2 separate regions of the Homo sapiens genome follow, and region 1 is linked to region 2. The links come from fine-mapping of genetic effects on gene expression. A gene starts in region 2. The other region holds a variant in brackets. All regions are shown on one strand. Distances are between the middles of the regions.

Evidence for each region.
Region 1: its variant is fine-mapped to the expression of CERK in whole blood (TOPMed, PIP above 0.99).

What each region holds. Positions count from the first base shown.
Region 1 is chr22:46,684,617-46,688,998 of GRCh38, reverse strand. It overlaps CERK (ceramide kinase), which reads left to right. Exons shown (of 13, transcript NM_022766.6): 13 at 1,793-4,382. The coding sequence ends at 1,865. Among named protein-coding and RNA genes, the nearest start is that of CERK, 51 kb to the left of the region's middle. RefSeq lists a silencer at 2,393-2,687. The variant G/A (reference allele first, on the strand shown) is at 2,551.
Region 2 is chr22:46,735,570-46,739,951 of GRCh38, reverse strand. CERK (ceramide kinase) reads left to right here and starts at 1,700. Exons shown (of 13, transcript NM_022766.6): 1 at 1,700-1,945. The coding sequence starts at 1,804. It overlaps LOC105373077 (a long non-coding RNA gene), which reads left to right and starts at 3,560. Exons shown (of 2, transcript XR_001755593.2): 1 at 3,560-3,649. RefSeq lists enhancers at 858-1,187, 561-1,219, 2,458-2,627, 3,315-3,888 and a silencer at 1,348-2,307.

The DNA.
Region 1 (4,382 bases), 51 kb after region 2:
GATGGAATCTGAGTGCAAAGAAAATTGTTTCTCCATGGAAAGACCCAGTAACAAGCAAGTTGATTTTTTCAAAAGGCCACTGAATTAGGTGTGGGCGTGCAAATTACATGAGACTGGGGAACGGTAGAGCTCAGGTGGATTCTGAACTCTTGGCAGATGTTGGTAAGAGCTCGGTCTACTTCAAGGAAGCCCAGCTTGACGCTCGTTAACAGAGTGTGGCTGGCGTGAGAGCGATAGCAGGCTGGTCAGCAGGCCCACGCCTGTCTGCAACGAAAGCTGGGTGTCAGATGGCCCTTGGGTGCCTTAAGTCACAGCATGTAAGAGGATGCACGCATCTCTGTGGACAGCGCCCCACTTTCAGTGACTCCTCAGCCAGCCAGCTGCGGCTCTAAGAAAGCTTCTCCCATTCGCATCCGAACAAGCCTAAGGGAGGAGGTCTCTGCCCCTCCCCAGGCCCAGGGCCACGCGCCCCCTTTCTTTCTGTCAGGGCGGTGGTGATGGCAAGAGGCTGTCGAAAGGTCCCAGGAACACCGGCCACCCCAGGCAGCCGTGCACAGGGACTTTCCTCTGTCAACTCATTTGACAAGTTTGGGAAGTGGGATTATTTTTAATATTGGTGTATGTATTTATTAAAGAAATAGAATAATTTGAAAATCAGGACAGGCATTCTTGAAATACGTCCTGTCTATCTTGATAAATATGGCTATGCCTTGAGCAGCACGTCGCTTTTAAAAATATAATTTGTGTGTGTGTGAGCTCAGCTCCATGGAAACAGCCTGTCACTTATTTATTTCTATTTTTTTATTTTTTGAGACAGAGTTTTGCTCTTGTTGCCCAGGCTGGAGTGCAATGGCGAGGTCTCGGCTCACTGCAACCTCTGCCTCCCAGGTTCAAGCAATTCTCCTGCCTCAGCCTCCCAAGTAGCAGGCGCCCGCCACCACACCTGGCTAATTTTTATATTTTTAGTAGAGACGGGGTTTCACCATGTTGGCCAGGCTGGTCTCAAACTCCTGACCTCAGGTGATCCGCCCGCCTGGACCTCCCAAAGTGCTGGGATTATAGGCGTGAGTCACTGTGCCCTGCCCCAGCCTGTCACTTAATGAAGGGGTTTAGGTTACTGAAATACGTCTGAGGAGGCTGTGATATCATTAATAAATGAGATAAATAGAGCTGTCCTGTGTGGGAAGATGGCACTCACCCACGGACTCACTGTGGCCACCGAGCCCCTGGGCAGGGGACCTCCAGGGACCCCCAACTTGTTCCTCAAGCCCGAAGGCTCTTGCTGGCGTTGGGCCACCTGTCCTTCTCATCTGAGCATTCCTCACACATCTCTTACACGCATTGAGTCGCCCCGCACAGACTCCTCGCAGGCCTTGCGCGCTCAGTACTGCTGAGAAAATGGAGGTGGGTGGGTGGGTGGAGTGGGCAGACACTGGAGCGGACGCTCTGCTTTCCATGGGGGTGCTGGAGTTCGAGTCAGGTCTACCGATGCCCAGATTTCCCACCTGGCCATTGGCAACCCCTTTACAAACTCGGCATCCCGGGAGTCTAAGTGAATTATTCCACGCCCAGGGCCCGTCATTGTGGGCTGGACTCCTACAGCCCACGGTGACGTCTGACCGTTCCATGGGGGATGGACCCCCACTTCAGCCCCTGTCCAAGAGCGGTGCTCAGGGCCAGCTTTGAGTGAGGGACACGTGGGGTTTACTGCAGCCCCTGTCCAGGAGTGGGGCTCAGGCCAGCTTTGAGTGAGGGACACGTGGGGTTTACACGTGGCCGCTTGTCTCTGCAGAGTCCACTGCCAGCTGGTTCGACTCTTTGCACGAGGAATTGAAGAGAATCCGAAGCCAGACTCACACAGCTGAGAAGCCGGCGTCCTGCTCACAAACTGGGAAAGTGTGAAAACTATTTAAGATAATTATTACAGACCAATTATGTTGATATATACATTTAAATGTAGAAATTTATTTTTGATAGTTAAATCTTGATTTTAGAAGAAAACCCTTTTGTCAACAATTTTGTGTACATATTTGGCATTTTCAGTTCTGTACGCATCTGCGGGTTGCAGCCCACGCCGCTTACTCTCAGCGGATGCAGCTGCTCACTTGGGGGCACTGGCCTCTTAGGTTTTAACGATGTCAACAGTGTAGTTTAGAAAATGGCCCGTTAGTGGCTCTATTGCAATAATGTTAGGGACATTATATGATTTCCACGCAGGTCACACCATCTGGGCCTGAGGTAGCAGTGGGTCACTTTGATCCACTTTGCAGGACTTATTCTGTAACGGTTTGTGGCCAAGTTTTGGGAAGTGGTTGATTCTCTTTGCCTTCATTTCACCTTCCTCTTCGTTTACGGTTAGGACATCGCTGCTTGATCCTTACAATACTGTGCAACTGCAATGCAACGTGGCCCTGCTTCAGGTGATCCGCGGGAGGGGCCTCCACGCCAGCGCCGGGAAGGCTGCTGGGGCCTCCACACCTGCCTCATCACGGCGGCGAGGCTACGACAATCCGGCTGGGAGCATGACCTTGGCGTCTGTTCTGGGAGCAC[G/A]GATGATAAGCTCTGGAAGCTGGCAGTGTGTAAAGCACTGGCAAGTTTGTTACTGTTAAAATGTCAAATACCAATGCTTTATATCGACGCGAAGTGCTTAACACAGCCGGGCTTGGGGGCAGTCAGGAGGAAGCTGGCCATCCGTGGAGGAGGGGCCGGTCCTGGACTCCCGCAGGACTCCTCTGAGGCAGGGCCTGAAGTCTGTACACGTGGTCCAGATTTGTCCTTGTCTTTTCTTCACACTGAGTTCTCTATATTTATTGAACATCTTGTCCTTTTAAGCCAGAGTAGTGTAAACTGCGTCTCGGATGTCTGTCTTTTGCCTCGAAGCCACGATGGATCGCTGGTTTCCTCTGCAGCGCGAGGGCTCCGGCGACCAGAGGATTCTTCCCGGAAGGCATTCCTGCCGCGCTCCCCGGGGCACCCCTCAATTGTGTACTACGTCCTTGTTTAGTGTGTATCCGTGCCCACGTAGATGATGTCTGTAACGTAGTTTTGTTTGAAATATGAGAATATGCGGCTTAAACTTTGATCTGTAAGGAGCGGGGCCGTGGCCGTTTGGAGCACGCTGTAGACACCGTTCCTCATGCTGCCGGGTGGGTTTTGCAGAAGCTCCCTTAGTGATTTCATGTTTAACAGGCAGCATCCATTTTCAGAATTTCCTGGCATTGATTTATATTTTGAAGCATACAGGAAACTTCTCGTTTCCTCGTTTAGCCCCACCCAGATCAGGTGAAAGGGCAGCTTTAATGGTGGTTTTTATGGACCACATTATCAGAGAGCACTGTGCAAGCCAAATGGTTCAATAATGAATGAAAATTCTGGGTGTAAAGAGTAAATATGCCCTGGCTCTTTCTACCAATGTTTGCTCCTGGTTGGAAAGAAACCAAAGATTTAAGACGGGCTGCTCTTCCAGACTGGCTGTGCCTGCCTGTGCCCAGCAACCTGTGCAGCCGGCAGTGTGCCTGGTGTCACGCCAGGAGGCTGTGGCTGCTGTGGGCCCTCTGGAATTGTGCTCCTCACAAAGTTTCCCCAAAAGGTTCTTCTAAGCCTTTATTGTCCCTGGTAAATGTTTCCCGGCTGGGCGCGGTGGCTCACGCCTGTAATCCCAGCACTTTGGGAGGCCGAGGCGGGTGGATCACCTAAGGTCAGGAGTTTGAGATCAGCCTGCCCAACATGGTGAAACCTCGTCTCTACTAAAAATACACAACTTAGCCAGTCTTGTTGGCGCACGCCTGTAATCTCAGCTACTAGGGATGCTGAGGCAGGAGAATCGCTTGAACCCAAGAAAGAGGTGGAGGTTGCGGTGAGCCAAGATTGCGCCACTGCACTCCAGCCTGGGCAAACAGAGGGAGACTCCATCGCCCCCCCCAACAAAAAAAAAAGTTTCCCATACACTGGCCTGCCCCAAAACCCACTAACAATTTTAGCAAAACAGTCCAGGCCAAAGAGGAAGCATTTCATGTTCAATAAGAAACCCAGCCATTCCGCATGGCTGGTTCCTGAGTGGCTCTGGTGATACTCTCCAGCCACCTGCTGACATTCAGAATCTCAGACCTCGGGACTGCTGTTGCGGTACCGTGTGTCTGACACCTGCCAGCAGCCCTTTGCTATCTGCGCGCAGGATGGGGGTGACTGCCCAGACATTCCCGCTAGATAGGCTCTGATTTCCGGGGCAGCCTTTCAGATGCGGCAGACATACAACACCTGTACTTTAGAGTTTTAAGGGAAAAAAAATCAGAAGTGCTGGTTAGATAGTAAAAACTTAGGATAACTTAGAAAGGCTAGTTTTAGCTTCCTTTGTGGCTCCCTGGTGCAAAACAATTAGCAGT
Region 2 (4,382 bases):
TTCCTCTTCTTGTAAGGACGCGCTGGATGAGGGCCCACCCTAACAGCCTCATTGAATCTCCTGTGTGTTTTGTAACTGATGTTGCTGTCTCCCCCAACGGAGCTCCTTCGGGGCCTAAGCACTTCTGAGTCGTCTCTGGGCCCCCACCTCTGGCTGCAGGATTTTAAGCCAAGGCGTGCAGCCGGGGGACAGCAACGTGAATACGCCGGGAGGGGCACGGGGAGCCTAAGCACAGGGAGGCCCAGGGAAGGGGTCCCCAGTAGGGACGCTGGTGCTCTCGGGCCCCTGCCCATGCCACCCTTGCCTGCCAACCCTCTTCGCATGCAGCGGCACCCTCCTGCCACTGGCATGAGCTTTTCTTTCCAAGTAAGTTTCAGATCCACATTTCCCAGGCCTCAGAGCGGCAGCTGAGGGAGGGAGGAGGCTGGGCAGGCCTCGCTGCTGCACACCCCACTGTGTGCCACGATCAGGTACTGCCTGCTAGGACTCTGACTGGGCCCACGGTGGCTGCAGGACTGTCCTGGGGCCTTCACTGCATGGCCTGAACAGGGGCTGGGCTCCCAGGGAGGAATGATTCATGGCTGGTTCCCGCCCTATAGACAAGACAGTCACAAGGAGCTGGCAGGGTAAGACCTGTATATGCTGCCACCTGGTGCCAGGCACAGCAGCAAGGCCACGTGGACCTAGCCCACCTCACCTCTGCCTGCAGCAGCAGGGCTGGGTAGGGGAGCCGAGGGGAGGGGCAGGCCTCAGACCTCAGTGTCACATCCAGGCAGTGTCAGTGTGAGCCTAGGCTCTGCCACACTGGAGCCCTGTGCTCTTGGGCAAGTGACTTAACCTCTGTGAGCACAGTCTTCACTGATAAATCAGGGAGGGATGTGCCCTCCGAACCAGGTTGTGGCTGCTTCCTATGGGGCTGTGTTAAGCACTGCGGACGCAGAGACTGGAGCTTGCATGAAGGCGCACGGCGTGCTCTGAAGGCAGGGCTGGAGTCCCTGCAGGCTGGTGATTCCTTCAGCTGTGGGGTCAAGGAGGCCTTCCTGGGGAGGCGGTGAATTGGGGCCACAGGGGCCGTGTCTCTCCAAGTCTGGGGCCCAGGCTCCGGTTCCTAGGGCCAGCTCGGGGGCGGCTGCTCAGCTGTCTGCTCTGTGGCTTCAGGCCCCAGAGCAGTTCAAAGGGCCAGCGCCCCCGCCCCCTAAAAAGACCTCCGCCTCCTGAAAGCCTTACCTGCCTGTCGGGGCCCAGCTGCAGGCCCCCTCCCAGGCCGACAGGACGCCAGGATCGTAGAGGGCACCCGCCGCCCAAGGTCACGTCGCCCGTGGCGCCCCCATCCAGGCCCGCCCCCCGCCGCGCCCGATCGCCAGGACTGCGTTTCCACGCCGCCCGGACCCCGCCTGAACCGAGGCCCGCGCGGAAGGCGCCACTGAGTCCCGGCCGGCCGCGGGAGCGCCAGATTCAGCACCCGGCACCCGCCGGAGAAGAGAGGAGAGAAAGGCAGCCGCCTCCCGGCCCCAGCGCCCTGGCCTCGGCCAGCCCCATCCCGGCCCCTTCCTCCTCCCTCTTCTCCCCTTCTCGGGTCCCCCCGTCTCTCCCTGGCTCCCGGCCCCTCCTCTACCCACGCCTCCTCCTCGCCCCCGCCCCGCCCGTCCCCTCCGCGGTCCCCGCCGCCCGCGTACGGGGTGACGCAGCGCCGCCTCCCGCCGCCCGCCGCCCGCCGCCCGGGCCACTGCAGGGGCCGCTAACGGTCCGGCGCCCCTCGGCGTCCGCGCGCCCCCAGCCTGGCGGACGAGCCCGGCGGCGGAGATGGGGGCGACGGGGGCGGCGGAGCCGCTGCAATCCGTGCTGTGGGTGAAGCAGCAGCGCTGCGCCGTGAGCCTGGAGCCCGCGCGGGCTCTGCTGCGCTGGTGGCGGAGCCCGGGGCCCGGAGCCGGCGCCCCCGGCGCGGGTGAGTGTCGCCGCCGCCCGGGTTCGGCCGGACCTGGCCAGGGAGCGGGGGCGGCTTGGGGGACCCGGCTGGGGGGACCGGGTGCAGGGAGCGAGCGGCTGTGGTAAGGCCGGGGGCCCTGGGAGCGCAGGCGCCAGGGAGGGGTCGGGGCAGGCGGGAGGGAGGCCGGGGCCAGGGGCCGGGCTGTGCGCCGCCGTCTGCTCCGGGAACCCGAGGACAAAGCGCCGCGCAGTGGAGGGGAGGCCGGCGCCCCATCCCCGCGGGGAGGTGGGACCCGGGGCGCGGGGTCGTGGCCCCCGGTGCGGTCTGTCCGCAGGGCACCTCTGGACAAGACGGACTGTGGATGGATCCCGAGGGGGGGTGCCAGGCGCTCCCCACCGCGCGCATTGCAGTTTACTCCAAGAACAGATGCTTTTCTTTAGCAGGGATCCGAAACCTGAGAGGCGCCCTTGCAGGGTGAGGACTTCCTGTTAAGAAGTTAAAGAAGGGGCCCCTGACTTTCTGTGGGGTGTGCTCCCTGCTCGGGATGGGGGAATTGGTTTCCGTGCCACGGGTTGGCTACTTGCCCCGCAGAGGCCCTCCGGATGAGGAGAAGAGTGACTTTGGTAAACATGGAGGACGCATAGCCCACCCTGGAGAGAGCCCTGCAGGAGGACAGAGGGTTTGTTTTTGTTTTTTGTTGTTTTTTGTTTGTTTTTTGTTTTTTTTTTTTTTTGAGTCGGAGTGTTGCTCTGTTGCCCAGGCTGGAGTTCAATGCCACGATCTTGGCTCACTGCACCTCCGCCTCCTGGGTTCAAGCAATTCTCCCTGCCTCAGCCTCGGAGTAGCTGGGATTACAGGAGCCCGCTACTACGCCCGGCTAATTTTTGTATTTTAGTAGAGACAGGGTTTCACCATGTTGGCCAGGCTGGTCTTGAATTCCTGACCTCAGGTGATCTGCCCACCTCAGCCTCTCAAAGTGCTGGGATTACAGGTGTGAGCAACCGCACCCAGCCTTTTTTCTTTTTAATTATTGGGGTGGGTGTGGCAGAGGCCAGGATTCATGCTGGATGTGCGGAGCTGGAATGGGGTGGGTGTGGCGGAGGCCAAGATTCTCTGGTGGATATTCGGAGCCTGGGATGACACCTTTAGACCCTGTGGGCAGTCGAGGTCAGGAGTTCTTCTGGGCGCTTTCTGGTGCTGAGTGGTGAGGATCTGTGGGTTGGGTTCTGGTGGGGACAGAGTTGAACGTTAGGTGGGGCCAAGGTCGAGGGGTGGTCTCAGACCCATGACCAACACTTGGTTTCCAGCCCTGGGGTCACCTATCTGTGGCTGGGCATCTGAGACTTGACTTTCCTAAGGTATTTCTCATGTCCCCTTTGGTAGAAATGTCACACCCCAAATATCACCCACCAGGGCCCACACACAAGGAGAACAGGTGCCTGACCTGGGCCCGAAGGGTTTGTACTTTGTTGTAAATCCCTAGGCTTCAGGAAGATGACTGCCTCCCCCAAGCACTTCCTAAGTGCGGGCCACTGGGCTTCAAACCGGATGGGTTCCTGAGAGGCAGCTGCTCCCGTCCTAGGGATGCAGGGGCCGATCTGCAGGGGCTGGAAGTGACTGGCCCAATTAGCTGCTGTGCTTGTAGCCACTGGGCTGTAAGGCTTCCCTCAGGCTCCAGCCGCCGCAGAGACGCCAGACCCTTACAGGGCATCTGTGTGGGAGGTCAGTCATCACTGCTTTCTGCCTTGGCGTCCCCAGCCAGCTCCCATTATGGTTTCTGGTCCCCCAGGTCAGGGCTTGGTGTGGTGTGGCGTCTGCTTTTGTCCAGCCTGCTGGGGTTTGCCTCTTGGCATGCTAATTGCTTCACTCTTGCTAAGCCAAGGTGCTTTTGTGCGGGTTCATCCTGAGCTGCCTGACTGGCCTGCCAGGAGCTTGGTCCCTCTTGGAGAGGGAGGGCCCTGGTTTGTGGGGCCATGGATGGTGGGGCCCTGGCTGGTGGCCCTGGCTGGTGGGCTTCCTCCAGGAAGCAGCCTGCCCTCTCCACCCAGGAGTGCTCTCCCATGCAATGGGAAAACATCAACAAGTTGGGAAACGCTAAGTTGTGAATGAGTTCAGGAATACAGCCACACTGTCTCTAGTTTTTTTCTCATAGCTTTACAGTCCCCAAAAGGAATCAGGCCCAGGTTCGATTCTTCTATGCTTGAGGTCAGTAGGGCCATAGTAGGGCAGAAGAATGTGAACCAGCTCACAGGACATTTAATTTGGTCAGCAAGGTGGCATTGCCCAGCCCTCCCCATTCCCCCAGGTGTATCTGGGCACACTGGGATTGATTAGGTTGAGGAATGATGAGAGGTGGAGAATTGTGCAAAAACTGGCCCTAGGAGGACCTGTGAGATGAGGCAGGAGCAGCCCTGGAGCTCCAGGTGACCAATGGGCTAAAGACAAAGCCAAGGCC